Linked DNA regions of Homo sapiens: region 1 is linked to region 2. The links come from fine-mapping of genetic effects on gene expression. A gene starts in region 2. The other region holds a variant in brackets. All regions are shown on one strand. Distances are from middle to middle.

What was found. PIP is the estimated chance that this variant, and not a neighbour inherited with it, causes the effect.
Region 1: its variant is the best candidate, but not a certain one, in a credible set for the expression of TAFA4 in transverse colon (GTEx, PIP 0.90).

Annotation. Positions count from the first base shown.
Region 1 is chr3:68,434,742-68,443,080 of GRCh38, forward strand. All of the region lies in intron 3 of TAFA1 (TAFA chemokine like family member 1), which reads left to right. Among named protein-coding and RNA genes, the nearest start is that of TAFA1, 430 kb to the left of the region's middle. The variant A/G (reference allele first, on the strand shown) is at 3,792.
Region 2 is chr3:68,927,972-68,936,310 of GRCh38, forward strand. TAFA4 (TAFA chemokine like family member 4) reads right to left here and starts at 4,576. Exons shown (of 6, transcript NM_182522.5): 1 at 4,269-4,576.

The sequences.
Region 1 (8,339 bases), 490 kb before region 2:
GAATTTGGTATACATTTCAGAGTTAACACCATGTGTCTAAAACTAGTCATTTTTGCGGACTTCATTTTGCATTGTCTGTGGAATTCAAGAGAAACATGTCTAATACTACCTCCTGTCGAAACCAAAAATGATACATGAAAGGCCCAAGAAAATGCCAAATCAGAAGATTCATTCTGCAAATACTTACTAACACTCTCTAATACTGAGCATCAGATAGAGTGACCAATAGGACATGATTTCTGCTTCAATGATTATAAAGTTCAGGGGAGATGACAGGCAAATTGGTGATTGCAAAGTTGTGTGATGTGTGCTCTGATGGAGATGAGCCCAGAGTGCTCTGAGAGCAGAGGTTAGGGTGTTAAATGATGGAAGCAGGAGGGTGTTCTAGATGGCTTCTCATCAGAACTAACATCCAGTCTGGGACTCTAAGTGACTAGGTAAGAGGATGGGATCGAATGTCCATGGCAGAAACAATGGCATGTGCAAAAGCCCAGCATCAACAAGAAGGATCCTAATGAATCCAAGGAGCTGCAAGAAGTTCAATGTGCCTGGGTAGAGAAGGGTGTGGGATGGGTCTGGAAAGAAGTGAGACTGGAAATCTCATTAGGAATGAGCTCATGCAGCAGCCTGGTAGCCATGGTGGATATTGAAACTGCCCAAGAGCAGTGGAATCAGGCACTAAAGGGTTTTGTGTCAATGAATGTTATGGTTAGATCTGTGTTTGGATGTCTCACTACATAGCACAGGAATTAAATTGTTTCTAGTATAATTGCTATTCATTGTACTTAGAGCCCAAATTTCTAACCAATACAGAGAATAAACCCAAGAAATGTCAGAAAGGAAACAGGTCCATTCTGATTTTTAGGTCAATGCTCTGATATTTAGGGTAACAAAGTTACATCACAGTTTTGCTGGCAAAAACTAGAGTGGAGATTATGAAAGAAGTAGTATCTCCAATAGGAAATCTTGGCATCTTAGCCACATGACTGTGAATGCATGCTTTTGGTTTTGCATCAAGGATCACTATGGCAAGGGGAGTGTTCATTCTACTTATGCAGAAAAAGTAAGAAGGACTGAGAATAACATATCTTAACCATGTAAAAACAGGCCCTTCATATAAGGGAAATTAAAGAGTACGATTAACGTCCTGCCAGACTACATGTTAGAATCACCTAGGGAGGTTTTTTAAAATATCAGTGGCTTGGCCACACCCCTAGATATTTTTACTTGATTGAGCTGAAGCAGGGTCTAGACATTTGCATTTTTTAAAAGCTCCATGAGGGATACTAAGGGATAACCAGAGTTGAGAACCAAAGCTGTAGTGGTTAAGAGCACGGGCTGGGGAATAAGGTAGAATGGATTGAAATTCTGGCTCTTGCTGAAAACAAAATTATTTCTGTTCTTTTAATTTCTAATTTATAAATCTTCCATGTGGCATTAAAGGTGACTTATATAGATATTTCCATCACAACCAGATAAAGTGTAATGTAGACATGAAAGGAATTCAACTCTTATGCCCTGCCCTTAGTTTCTTCATTTGTAAGGTGGGCATAACAGTATCTACCTTATATGATCTACGCAAGCTTTGAACATGTTAATAAGTAAAAAGATTTATAAGTACCTGGCATATAAGTGTTTGATAGATGTAAGCTATTGTTCTTAACTCAGGTGAAGTTCATAGGAGAAACAGGACAGAGAGGAGAGAAATCACAAAGCATGTTTCAAAGACACCAATTAGTTTGGCTGAGGCCTCAGGGAGTAATAGGTAAAAAACTTACAAAGTCAAGTTGGGGCCAAATTTCTTTCTTGAGCTCCAGGCTAATGTTGAAATTTCAGCAAGTGTTCATTAATTGGTCATCTAATAATGTAGTCCCCAAGCAGGTAAGACCAGCAGGTGTATATTGTACAAAATAGAATAAATTTAAGGATTGCTCAGAGTTCATTCCAAAACTTGGGCTCTGATTTGAATTGAACCCAAATGTGGAACCAACAGATGTCTCTGTGGAAAGTTGTGATTAAGTCAACATAGAGCTTCACAAATGAACAGCGAGTCACTGGTTATGAATAACCCCTGGCACTCAGGAAGGCAGATGCCTTTCCTGGTGACACCTTGGCTCTTGTTAACAGATACAGCCAGCTCCACTTCTGTTGTCCAGATTTTGCCCACTTTATTAGAAAACTCTAAATAGTGCTGAAAACTGTTTCTGTTCTTTCTCTTTTTATTTATAAATATTTTATAAAAGAGCAAATGTAACTTACATGGACAAATCCCACACAGCAATGTAAACATAAAATGTAATATAGACATGAAAGAAGTAAGAAGACAGGGGAAATGAGGATGAGATGTTTAAAAGAAAGCTGGGAGGGAACTGAGAGAAGGTCACGCAATCCTATAAATATGCCACCAATGCATCGCAAGTTTGGCTGTAAGCCTTCTAACAGGCAATGCAAAGAGGGAAACAAGATTGGTTACAAGATTTAGAATGTTCCCAGCTTAATCCAGGCTGTTGCTTAATAGCACAATAACATTGTGCTATTCTTGGCACAATGTTAAAGAGAAATATGTCCAGGTCTACATAAAGAGAATATAGTTTAAAATAGTTGTATTAGTCCATTTTCTTATGGACTTTCTTATGGTCCATTCTCTTATGTTGCTTGTAAGAGAATATCTGCATCTGGTTAATTTATAAATAAAATTATTTCTTACAGTTCTGAAGGCTGACAAGCCTAAGGCCAAAGGGCTGCATCTCGTAAGGGCCTTCTTCCTAGGAGTGACTCTGTAAAGTCCCAAGGCAACACAGGGCATAACATGGCAAGGGGACGGAATATGCCACCTCAATTCTCTCTTTCTCTTCTTATAAAGCCACCAGTTTCACTCTCATGAAAACCCATGAATCCATTAAGGAATTCATTCATTAAGAAATGAATTCATTGATAAGGGCAGAGTCCTTATGACCCAATTACCCCTTAAAGGCCCCACCTGTCAATATTGCCACACTGGGGATTAAGTTTTAACATAAGTTTTGGAGGGTACAAATTTTCAAACCATAGCATTCTACCCCTGGCCTCCCGAAACTCATATCCTTCTCGCATACAAATATATTCATTTCAACCCCATAGCCCTAAAGTCTTAACTTGTTCTAGCACCAACTCAAAAGTCCGTCTACTTTTTTGTGAAATCAAAACAAGGCATCTACTTCCAAGACACACGGTGGGAGAGACATAGGGTACACATTCCCATTCCAAAATGGAGAAATAGGCTAGAAGAAAGGAGTAACAGGCCCCAAGCAAGTCCAAAACCCAAGAGCAGACATTAAGTAATAAGACTCCAGATTAGCCATGTGCAGTGGCTCATGCCTGTAATACAAGCACTTTGGGAGATGGAGCTGGGCAGATTGCTTGAGCCCAGGAGTTTGAGACCAGCCTGAGCAACAGACAAAACCCTGTCTCTACTAAAAATACAAAAATTCATTGGGTCTGGTGGCACATGTCAATAGCCCCAACTACTTGGGAGGCTAAGGTGGAAGTTTTGCTTGAGCCCAGAGTGGGAGGTTACAGTGAGCCAGGATTGTATCACTGCACTCCAGCCCAGGAAACAGAGTGAGACCTTGTCTCAGAAAAAAAGACTCCAGAATAACAGAATAGTCTCCTCTGGCTCCATATCTGCATTTTCTGCACACCAGTTGTGGTTGGGCCCCCAAGGCCTTGGGCAGTCCAACCCCTGTGGCTTGGCTGGACTCAGTCTACCCAGCTCACTTAGGGTTGCATTGCACACTGTTCTCTCTACAGTT[A/G]TGGGGTCTTGGTGTTAGTCCCACTCCCATGGCTCCATTAGGCATTGTTCTGGTGGGGACTCCCTGGAGCACCTTCAACGCACCTTTCCACTCAGCATTGCTCTAGAGGAAGTTCTCTGTGGTGGCTCCACCCCAGTGATAAGTCTCTGCCTTGCCCTCAGGTTGTCTGACACATTCTTTGAAATCTAGGTGAAGGCTGCCATGCTTCCATAGCTCTTGTTTTCTGCAAGCCTGCAGAATTAGCACCACTTTGGTGACACCAAAGTTTATGGCTTGCATCTTCTGGGGAGTGGGTTTCATCTCAATTAAGGCCACTTGAGCCACAGCTAGGATGGCCACACATTGCTGTACCAGGGTTCTGGGAGCAAAGTGTCGTGGTATCCCTGAGCAGCAAGCCCATGTAGAGAGTGTCAGGCCTGTCCCCTGAAATCATTCTGCCTTCCTAGCCCCCTGGGCCTGTGATGGGAGCAGCAGCCTCAAAGATCTATAAAATGCCTTTGGGATCTTTCTTCCATTGTCTTATGGAATAATACTTGGCTCCCTTCTATCCATGCTAATCTCTTTAGGAAACAGTCACTGGGCTACACCATTGGTTTTTCTCTCCTGAACATGCTTTTTCACTTTTTACATGGCCAGGCTGAGAGTTTTCCAAATCTTTCTACTCTTCTTTCTTTTTATTTATAAATTCTGTCTTCAAATTATTCTTTTCCTCCCAAATCTCAGTGTAAGTGGACAAATGTGACCATGAAACGTCTATATTTTGCATAGAAATTTCTTCTGCCACATACCCTAGTATATCACTCTTGAGTTTGGCCTTCTACAAAGCTGTATTAGTCAGGGTTCTCTAGAGGGACAGAAGTAATAGAATATATATACATACATATATATATATATATATATATATATATATATGAGTTTATCAAGGAGTATTAACTCACACAATCACAAGGCCTTACAACAGGCCATCTGCAGGCCGAGGAGCTAGGAAGCCAGTCTGAGTCCCAAAGCTGAAGAACTTGGAATCCGATGTTTGAGGGCAGGAAGTATACAGCATGGGAGAAAGATGTAGGCTGGAAGGCTAAACCAGTCTAGTCTTCTCAGGTTCTTCTGCCTGCTTTTATTCTGGCTGTGCTGGTAGCTGATTACATTGTGAATGCCCAGATTAAGGGTGGGTCTGCCTTTCCCAGCCCACTGACTCAAATGTTAATCTCCTTTGGCAACACCCTGATAGACACACCCGGGATCGATACTTTGCATCCTTCAATCCAATCAAGATGACACTCAGTATTAACAATCACAAGTCCATTCCTTGTCAACTTGAATGCATATACAACTCCTGAGATCATACATAATCTTCAAATAAAGACAATAATAAGATCATAATTATGCCTAACATAATACAACTTCCTTTGAACAACTGGAACTGCACCAATCCCCAACTCAAATGCTATTACATAAAGTTAACAACACTTAAATGCCAATATGAAATTGATATGGTTTAGCTGTGTCCCCCCCCTCCAAATCTCATCTCAAATTGTAACCCCCACAATTCCCACATGGCATGGGAGAAACTGGGTGGGAGGTGATTGAGTTATGGGGGCAGATCTTTCCTGCACTGTTCTCATGATAGTGAATGAGTCTCAAAAGAGCTGATGGCTTTAAAAACAGAAGTTTCCCTGCACGAACTCTCTTCTATTGTCTGTCACCATGTGAAACATGCCTTTCACCTCCCACCATGATTGTGAGGCCTCCCCAGCCACACAGAACTGTAAGTCCATTAAACCTCTTTCTTTTGTAAATTGCCCAATCTTGGATATGTCTTTATCAGCAGCATGAAAATGGACTAATACAGAAGTCAATAAATTTTAGGGCACATGATAAAGGAAAAAGGAAACAAAATGAAGATTTTTTATAGCACAAGTGTATACATGCACAAACATGTTTTTAACAAAAGGAGGAGGAAATATGACAATTACAGCCCTCGTTTCTGCAACTGGTCACGTGGTCATAGCTGGTATTAATGACTAGTTTCTTCTACTACCCATTCTGTATTCCCTTTGCCTTCAGCAAATGCCTCAAGAGGTCATGAATTTTTCCTGGTAGAGTGACCCAAACCTTCATTCCTGAAGGGTCTGGGCCATTTGTAGTCCTGCCTGGATTGGACTGTTGTAGTTTCCCATTGACCTTAGTCACAGGGAATGGTAATACTAAGATCTCTTGTATTCCACACATACTCTTCCTTACCTCCATTGTGGAATAGTAGACTGATTTTATCTTGATAATACAGGTCAGTCACCGCAGCCAACACTGTAACCCCCTTCTTAGCCTGTTGACTTAAAGGTAGAGGAGCCCAAAGTGTCCAGGTGGCAATCTTAACTTCCAATTTAATGGAATCATTGTTGTGTCTCCTGGTGGCAGTGTTCCTCCCTCTGGAACTATATCTGACTAAAATTAAGGGATCTTCTACCTCAGTAAAATTTCTAGGGGTCCAGTGGTGTTGGGTCTGTCGAGATATTCTTTCTAAGGTAAAGAATAAGTTGCTGCATTTGGCCACCCCTACAACCAAGAAAGAAACACAAGGCCTAGTGGGCCTATTTGGATTTTGGAGGAAACATATTCCTCATTTGGGTGTGTTACTCTAGTCCATTTATCAAGTGACCTGAAAGACTGCCGGTTTTGAGTGAGGTCCAGAACAAGAGAAGGCTCTGCAACAGGTGCAGGCTGCTTTGTAAGCTGCTCTGCCACTTGGGCTATATGACCCAGCAGATCCAATGGTGCTTGAGGTGTCAGTGGCAGATAGTGACACTGTGTGGAGCCTCTGGCAAGCCCCCATAGGTGAATCACAACAAAGGCCTCTAAGATTTTAGAGCAAAGCCCTGCCATCTTCTGCAGATTACTACTCTCCTTTTGAGAGATAGCTCTTGGCCTGTTACTGGGCTTTGGTGGAAACTGAACGTTTAACTATGGGTCATCAACTCATCATGCAACCTGAACTGCCTATCATGAACTGGGTACTTTCTGACCCATCTAGCCATAAAGTGGGTTGTGCACACCAGCATTCCATCATCAAATAGAATTGATATATACATGATCGGGCTCGAGAAGGTCCTGAAGGCACAAGTAAGTTACATCAGGAAGTGTCTCAAATGCCCATGGTCTCCACCTCTGCCACCCTGCCTTTTCTCCCTCAGCCTGAACTGAGGGCTTCATGAGGAGTTCCCTATGATCAGTTGACAGAGGAAGAGAAGACTAGGGCCTGGTTCACAGATGGTTCTGCATGATATGCAGGCACCATCTGAAAGTGGACAGCTGCAGCACTACAGCCCCTTTCTAGGACATCCCTGAAGGACAGCAGTGAAGGGATATCTTCCCAGTGGGCAGAACTTTGAGCAGTGTACCTGGCTGTGCACTTTACATGGAAGGATAAATGGCCAGATGTGTGATTATATACTGATACATGGGCTGTAGCCTAGTCTTCCTGTTTTCTTAGCCCTCACCAGAATCCTGCTGCTCCAAATTCTTCCAGCCTCTGCCCATTATGCAGTTGCAAAGTTGCTTCCACATTTTCAGGTATTCATGATCACCACCACCCCACTCCTTATATCAATTTTTTTAATTAGTCCATTTTCTGTTGCTTATAACAGAATCCCTGAAACTGAGTAATTATTAAAGAAAAGGAATTTATTTCTTACAGTTGTGGACACCCAGGAGCTAGCTGCATCTGGAGAGGGCTTTCTTGCTGGTGGGGACTTGGACCAGAATCCCAACGTGGCAAAGGGTATTACATGTCAAAGGGGCTAAGCTAATGTGCTTGCTCAGGTCTCTCTTCCTCTTCTTCTAAGGCCATCCATTCCCCTCCAAAGACAACTCATTTATCCATGAGGGGATTAATTCATTCATAAGGGCAGAGCACTCATGTGACTCAGTCATCTCTTGAAGGCCCCACCTCTCAATACTGTTAAGTTTTAGCATGAGTTTTGGAGGAGACATTCAAACTATAGCAATACTAATATTCTTATCACATTTCAATAACCCAGTAGAGTTTATGACACGTAGTGGCTACTAGTGAGTGAATGAAGGAAAAAAGAAAGAGGGAGGCAGGGAGGAAAGGGAGGAGAAGAAATCTATATTCTAAATCTACAAAATGTATGGGATGCTTTGCTAACAATAAGGTAGTATACACAAAATGGCTCAGTGTAGCCATCAGCACTCAACTAGTCTGACTGAAACCAGAAATGGATTTTAGTGCCTGCAGAAAAGAATAGATTAAATATCTCACAGGCAATCTTTACTATAAACTGTTTCTCTCCATCAGATAGCTGATAAGGATTGAGGGTCAGTAATTTCATGTTATAGTCCTGTATACCTCCACATTCTTGATTCAGTGGCTTGATGCAATAGATATTTACTTCTCATTCACATAAAAATTGATTCAGGTGTAGGGGTAGCTCTCCTCCATGTGGTGATACAGGAAGCCTCTGAATCACCTCTGTATCGTGGCTCTGTTATATATGACTACAAAAGGCATCCACATCAAGTGGCAGAGAG
Region 2 (8,339 bases):
AATACCACAATCTCATAAAAGGAAACAAATTACCCATGTCTTTATTATCTTTCTAAATGGTGTCTTGTCATTTTATTAACAAGAACTCCCTAATATTTGATGCTACCATACTTCTGAATTAAAATTATTTATGCTTGTGTTAATGATTTGCTACTCTAAGATCCTGACAGCTTTTGAATTAAAAAGAATGACTAAAAAAGATTCAATGTTGCCTTAGATTCATAACTCTGAAAATCAGTAGTTCATCCATATAAAGAAAGCCATCTAGTAACCAGAATGTTTCCATAACATCAACACGCTACAGCTGGCACATACTGAGTGTTCAACAAATGTGGGGTACCATTATCGTTATTCACAATCATGCCAGAAAATAATGTTGTACCAAATTATTGGCTAGTACTGGCTTTTATAGCAACTAAAAGGCACTAAGTATGAAAGGGCAGCCTATCACTTAATAGATTGATATTCTGAGTTCTTTCACAAATAAACCATAAATCATTATCTTAAACTGCCTGACCATCATTCTAACATCCATGTCTTTCCATGTGTTCAGTTAGGTTCAAATTGCGTCACCCTGCCCAATACTCTTCCATCGCCAGCTCCCCTTTAAACCTTTCGTTTATAACTGTGGATACTGTCGCAGCTACTAGGAAGTAACCCAAGCTAGCTGGTGTATACAGCTGTCCAATCCTTGAGGTGGGCTCAACTAGCATGGTAGTCCAGCAAACTGATGGTGCAAGAAGCCAATGTGGCCCTCCTCCGCAGAGACAGCCAAGGGAAGGGGTCCCACCACATCACAGGAGTCATTCTCTCCCAGTCTTCATTGGAAAGTGCACTGGGCTAGGAATTAGGACTCCGGGATTCTAATCCCAGGTTTTTTAAATAACATAATAGATCCAAGGTAGGACAACACCTCCTACCCCTGATCTTCTAGAAAGGTGAAATCTGAGGTACTTTCTAGATTTAAAATTCTTTGAGCGTTTCCTTAAACCAGATTTTACAATTAAGTTTATTTAAAAAAAAAAAAAGAGCCCTTTTGACTGACTGAAGGGAAATGAATTGAATAGCAACTGTACAACAGGAAGAATTTCTCTTATTTTTCAGCAGATACCAAATAGATGGGAAGTCAAGGTCAATTTTATCTTTTGAGAGGTGGGTTACAGGAGATCACAAATTGAGTGAGGCATTACAAAGTGCAGTGCCATACTACAGCTTAAGTCTCTAAGTCAGGGCTGCCATACCATACTTAAGTCTCGAAGTCAGGGCTGTCTAGGTTCTGACATGGCTTTCAGAAATAACATTTTCAAAACAAATAATTATGAAGTGATTAATGTGGCCAAGATCGCTTCACCAATACCTTTGTGGATATCTTTGTTTCCTATTGCCTGAATCGTGAATCTTGTTTCCTATGGCCTCAATCCCCCACCCTCAATCCTGAATCTTGACAAATTAGGATAAATATACTGTATGGCCTCCCAATCATTTATGATTGATTGGCTTCAGGACTTTAAGTCATCTTGCTAATCCTGAGTGATTTAATAGCCAACACCTGAAGAAATGAACTCATGTACTCAAATTAGCCCATCACCTACGTGGCTATCTCTAGGACAAAAAATAAAAGCAAAAGATTAGTCCATTTACTGTGATGTCTTTACATATTTGTAAAGAAACAGAGCCAGAACACAGGGTGAAAAACTCGCAAAGAGGAAGAAAGCACAAGGGGGAAAATCTACTTATGCAAATTCTAAAGAGATCTATAAAATTGCAATCTGAGAATGTTATTATTAAGCTAAGCCTCTTAGTATAGAAATACCCAAAACTCTCAAACTGGGCAGCTAACGGAGAGTTAGTAAGTGCCAAAAAGACTTCCTTCTTTCCCTTATTCATCACAGGCAATATAGAATCACTTGCTCAATATGATAATATGACTTTTGTCAATGCATGTTCAAATCAGATCAAGGATTGGCTGCTGATGATGTCATATCCAATGGTTAATCCCCAGTGAATGCAGTTTTAATATCACATGCATCAACATGCCATTTACATAGCAAAGTATTATATTAAGTGTAACAATAAATGAGTGGTGCAGAAAAAAAGCAGCTATTAGGAAAAGGCTAGGTACCACTGAAAAGGAGGTGGTAGCGGGGAGCAAAGGAGTTTCTTCTTTTTCTTTTTTAATTACTAAATGGAACTAGGTCATCAAACAATACACATGTCTAAAAAGATCAGAAAATGAATATTGAAATTCAAGTGACCTAGGATATTCTAGTACTAGAAATATAAAAATGGTTGCCTTCAATGAAAAATATCCAATAATCAAGCAGAGATATTTGTAGGGGTTTTTGTATGTGCTAAGGGAACAAGTAATACAATTAAAGTCATTCAAAGATAGAGAAATTGGCAGCCACTGCTTTTCTGGACAGGACAACTTACTTATCTTTAGCAGGGAAAAGTGGCCAAGTCAAATTGTGACTTGAAGCCTTATAATAAATTTTAAAGTGTCAAAGGGCAGTTAAGATGGTACTGAGGGATGAAAGCAAAGTCACGCAAAGCAGAACAATGAGACAGAAGAACTTAGGAAGGGAACCTTGAAATACGGCTTTCTGCTATGAGAATATTGATTAAGAAATGTCCGTGCATATGAAGAAAGCTTCTTCCACAAATGAGCCATGCCAACTCACTCGGTCATTTTGGGAGGACACAAGTCATCATTCGTCATAATGATTCTGAAAACTGCTCTCACACTACCTTATTAAGGCCTGTATTTCCCATCTAGAGGAAGTGTTGGGCTTTCACACTGATATGACTATAAACTTAGCAGAAATTCTTCTCACTATAAAACCCACGCGAGCTATTGAAGAATTCTTCAAGTCATACATTTGTTCTCAGTGACTGAGTGGTAACACTAATTATATTGCAAAATGGCTGTTCCTAAATTATTTTAGCCTTTAAAAAAATCCAAGGCCTTCCTGAACTGGGCTCTGACACAAACTGCCCCCACCTCTTCCCTCCTCAGCGAGTGTTCTAGAGGGGGCCAAACGAAGATGCGTGTGATTAGGAAGCTAGGCCATCAGTGTGCACAAGTTTGGGTGACCGAGTCTGCAGGTGGCAGCTACGAGTTATGGTGGACAAGCTTTATGCCAAGGATATTAGAGACAGAAACAGACCAAAGCTTCGAAGGCGCCCATCCCCACACACGGGGATCGCCTGTCACATCACATCAACCTTGCTTGTCTCAGAGGGAAGACCATTGAAAAGTTAAAAGGGAAAAGAGTTCAGGGATAAAGACGTTAAACCAAAGGGGGGTCCCTGAATCTCGGTGACGGGGGATGGGCACCAGGCTAGGTCTCGGCGAGTCCGTGAACCCGTGCATGTACATACTGCTTAGGAGCTGATTCACAGCTTTACTAAGGCTCCGTGGAGCCCCTAAACGTTAAATGATGCTGATTCGAGAAGAAAACGCACCAGCGGCACTGTGTCTGGCTTGGGCAGCCTCACCAGGTGCAGGAGATCAAGCTTTCCAGTTCCAATCCTCTCCCGAGCTCCTTGCGTAGGGTCAAGGATGCCCTCTCTTCTAGGAGCGGATTAACAGGGCAAAGTGGGAAAAAGAGCGAAAGAAATGTAGAGATGCCACCTTGGTGGGCAAATCTGAGATGCCTCCCGCGGAAAGAGACGCAACTTCCAGACCCGCTCCAGTTCTCCACTTGGGCGGGAAGCTTTGCGCTCCCAGCTGGAAGACGCCTCCCGAGCGCTCGCTGCGCCCTTCAAGCAAGATCCTAGCAACCAGAGCTTCAGGGTGGGGGTGGGGGCGGGGGGACGCTGACCGGCTCCCACCTGCTTGCTCCTAGAAAGATCCTAGCTCAGATTAAAGGGATGAAGCGCTAAGGTCGACTTGTCCAGAAAAGAGCTCACGGTGAGTTCACCACCCCCTATACCAATTCATCGAGTGGCCTCCTCCGCATCAGCAGAGCACCCCCGGGGATTCTGTCAGACATGAACCCCGAAACTGGAAGCGGCCGCTGCCTCTCTCCAGCCACACATCCTTACTTCGGAGTGCCCCTTCCAACTTCGGGTTGCACGCCGACCTCAGCACAGGCACTCTCCCCGGCGCCCCAGAGAGCCGGGATGAGGGGAGCTGCACCGAGCTGAGTTAACTCGGTACCAGCCGAGAGGCAGCGGCTGCCCACGAGACAGCACCTAAATACAGGGTCCAAATCCACCCCCACCCCATCCTCTCGCCCCTCCTTATCCCTTCCAACCCTTCTTACTCGACTAGAGCCGGCATCCAAGTCGGACCGGCGCGTCCGGAACTAGGTACTGATCGCCGCACCGGAGCCCGAGGACGCTCACCGTGCCGCCTCCCCGCGGGAGCCCCGGGAGCGGCCCATCACCTCTGCAGCCTCGCCAGGAGAAGAAAAGTTCCCACGTCTCTACCAGGAGAAGCCCGAAGCTCCTGCGGGAGAAGCCTGAAGCTGCTGCTGGAGAAGCGGCAGCTGAGGCAGGACTCCCGATGTTTGCCCGCAGCCGCGCGCGCAGTCGGTGCGCCCCGTCCAGGGCGGCGCGCAGCTAGCAGTGCGGAGCCGAGCCCAGCTAGCGCGCTGACCAGGAGGGGCCGGGCCCGCCGCGGAACGCGCTGATTGGCCGGGCCGCCCGGCTGCTCCTGTCCCTGCCTGGCCCCGCGGTCCACGTGGGCCGGCCTTCTCCCCGCCCCGCACCCCTGCTCAGGCGGCGCGCCCCCACTGCCGGCCTCCAGGCGCCTCTCCCGAGCGCCTCGCTGTGGCCACCACTCCGCAGGTGCTGAGCAAAAGGTATTCTTCCTGAATACCTGAGAGTCGCGTTGAGCTCCACATAAGGAAGACGGATTTAGGGTTCGGCTCTCACTCGAAACCATTCTCCACGCAGGACCCAAAGCGGTTTGCAAGCAGGATTTCTTAGCCACCCCGTGCAGTAGCACATTCATGAACTAATCTGGCTTCGCGTGTAATGTGCTTGTATGAGAGAGGAGAAAACTCGGCCCACGTATGAATACCTAAATACTTTTCTTTTTTAATGTATAAAATACAGCTGGGGCCGGGCTCGGTTGCTCACGCCTGTAATCCCAGCACTTTGGGAGGCTGAGGCGGGTGGATCATGAGGTCGGGAGATCGAGACCATCCTGACTAACACGGTGAAACCCCGTCTCTACTAAAAATACAAAAATTAGCCAGGCGTGGTGGCGGGTGCTTGTAGTCCCAGCTACTCGGGAGGCTGAGGCAGGAGAATGGCGTGAACCGGGGAGGCGGAGCTTGCAGTGAGCCGAGATCGCACCACTGCACTCCAGCCTGGTCGACAGAGCGAGACTTCGTCTCAAAAAAAAAAAAAAAAAAAAAAAAAATTCAGCTAAGACTTCTTTGACTCCCTCCTCCCACCCCATTCCTAGTCATGCCCTCCACTCTTCCGCAAGTGAAGTAACTGATAATCAGTGTCACTTAATGGTATTCATTTTACTGGGATTAGTTCATCTGATCTCTATTTTATAGATGAGATAACTGAAGCACAGAGAAGTTAAATCGTTTACTGAAGATTACACAGGTAACTAGTAAATCCATGCTCTTTAGTATGCAAAGCATGGCGTCGTAGAGCGGTCCCTTGAGAACACTTTAGAACTGCAGACTTTCAGGCCCCACCCCAGAAGTAGAATCTTCATTTTAACAAGATGCCCAAGTGGCTGGTGCATGCATAAAGTTAGAAAACGTTGCTCTGTACCACTATGCTGCTCACTGTCATTGGCTTGGCTTATCATCTTCTGGTCCTTTTACTCTGCATTGACATACAATTATGTGCCATCCTGCCCCTGCTGCACTCCAAAGTATGTTCACCCTTCTCTGACTCTACCCCTTGAACTAACGTATGGCAGGCCTTCTGCTTCTGTTCCCCGTACCACACATACCATAGCACATTTTACTTGTTAAACAGTTTCAATCTCTTACTCTCTTATTATTAAAATGGGGGTTCTACATTCAAAGGCAATTTGTTATCAAGATGTCACCAGTTTAAGAGAGAATTCAAGCTTTGGAGATAGGCGCTTGATCTTTGAGATTTCCTTTAAAGACTAGCATTGAAGTTCTGTGACGGCCAAAGGGGAGATCCAAGCAAAACCTGAAATAGCATGCCAGGAGATTCCAGAGCTCTTTCTCAACAGCATTCATTCATTCATTCACTCACTCAGCAAAACTGAGGGCCTACTCTGTGTCAGGCGCTGTAACAAGTGCTGGTACATAGAGAAGGAAACACAACAGTGAAAAGTTCCTGAGTTCATGGAACTTATCTTCTAGTAGGGAGAGATGGGCAATTAACATGACAAATAAGTGAATTACAGAGTTTGATAGAAAGTGGTCAGTGTTATAGAGAGAAAGAAAGTAACAGAAAAGAAGGTGAGTACTGGGGAGATGGTGGTTTTAAGAACAGTAGTTAGGCTAGTTCCCACTGAGAAGGTAATATCTGAACCAAGACTTGGAAGAAGTGAGGGAGCAAGTCATTTAGAAGAACAAGTCCACATTCATTTGTTCACCAGATATTCGTTGCTTCCACACTGTGTGACAAACATGGTTCTGGCAAAGATCTGCGTGTTTACTTAAGCCCTGTTTTCCATGTCTCCAATTTTCCTGCACTGGGGGTTTCTTGTCCTGGTGAGGAAAACCAAAACGTAAGCAACTGTGTTTGGCTCAACCTAATACCATGTTCTTCCATCCTGGATGTTCAGTACTGTTAGAGGTTCAAATTTGTCTCCCTAAAATTTATATGTTTAAGTCATAACCCCCAGTACCACAGAATGTGACATTATTTGGAGATAGGGTCTTTATGGAATTAAATTAAATGAGGTCTTTAGAATGAGCCCGAATCCAGTATGACTGTGTCCTTATAAAATGGGGAAATTTGGAGACAGACATGCACACAGGAAGAACACCATGTAGAAATCAGGACAGAGATGGAGTGATACTTCCACAAGCTAAGGAATGCCAAAGATTGCCAGCAAACCACCTAGGGAGAAGAGAGGCGTGTAACAAATTCTTTGCAGCCCTCAGAAGGAACCAACCCTGCTAACACCTTAACCTTGGACTTCTAGCCTCCAGAACTGTAAGACAAGAAATTTCTGTTGTTTAAGCCACCTAGTTTGTGGTATTTGTATGGCAGCCCTAGCAAATTCATACAAGCATAAAAGTGTGTTTGTTTCTAAAGTAAGATAGTACAGTTAAGGGACTCATCTGTAAGTTTCCAATGACCTGATGTCTCTTGTGCAGTAGCAAGAAGCCAGAATGATCTGATAAATTGAGATTTACTAACCAAATCACCACAAAAAAGGCAAGCTATATTAAAAAAAAAAAAAAGAAATAGCCACTAAGCCCCAATTATCCAATTGTTTCCTCATTCAGCTATTTATCAAGCGCCTGCTGTGAGCCAGGCTCTAGGATATGGTGACAAACAAGGCACATGTGAGTTGCGTGTATTCTTGTGGGGAAGGTTGGACAGTAAATAATTCAACAAATATATGAATAAGGTCATTTCAGAGCACAATAAGTGCTAAAAGAAAATAAAAGAAGGCTAGAGCATTAGAAGGATATGAGGATGGGTTTAATTTAGATTGGCTGCCTAGAGAAGGTCCCTATGAGGTAGTGACGTTTGAGTCAAGACCTAACTGACAAAAAGCCATCCAAGCGAATATCTGGGCAAAAATTGTTCCAGGCAGAGACAGTAGTTCCTCTTACAAGAAAACATTCCTGTCATTCATTCGGTAACATTCTTTCTCTCTCTCTTTGCGACCCATTTTGCATCCTTTGAGGTTGTGTAAAATCAATCAACATCTGTTTCCTAAAAATGGGGTCAAATGATTTATTTTCTTATGTAAGAACCTGTGAAGGTCACGCCAACGGTATTTTGCACACACCACACATTCACAAAACACCCCTGGATGTGCCTCTGTATTTGTAGGTAGTGACACCACGTGACTTGGACATTGTGTTTACTTTCCTCATTTGTATAACATCCAGAACACTACTGGCATGTCCTGGTGCTTAATCAATACGTGCTGATGACTGACTATGCCTGAAAGGAACGTTCTGACTCTCCTGGGCCTGTTTAAAAAATCCTCTTGTTTCTAGCGAAGCTTCAGTTTTAAAAATTTGCAACACAATTTTGCACTTAGTAATTTTTCTGAGGAGACTAATAAGAATGATAGCTGACTTAATTGGAGGCTTGTGTGTGGCTCACTATACTATGTACTTCACACGGATTATCATCTTTATAATCCATGTAAATATAAGTAAAGGTAAATACAAGGTAAATTCTCTTATTATAATCTC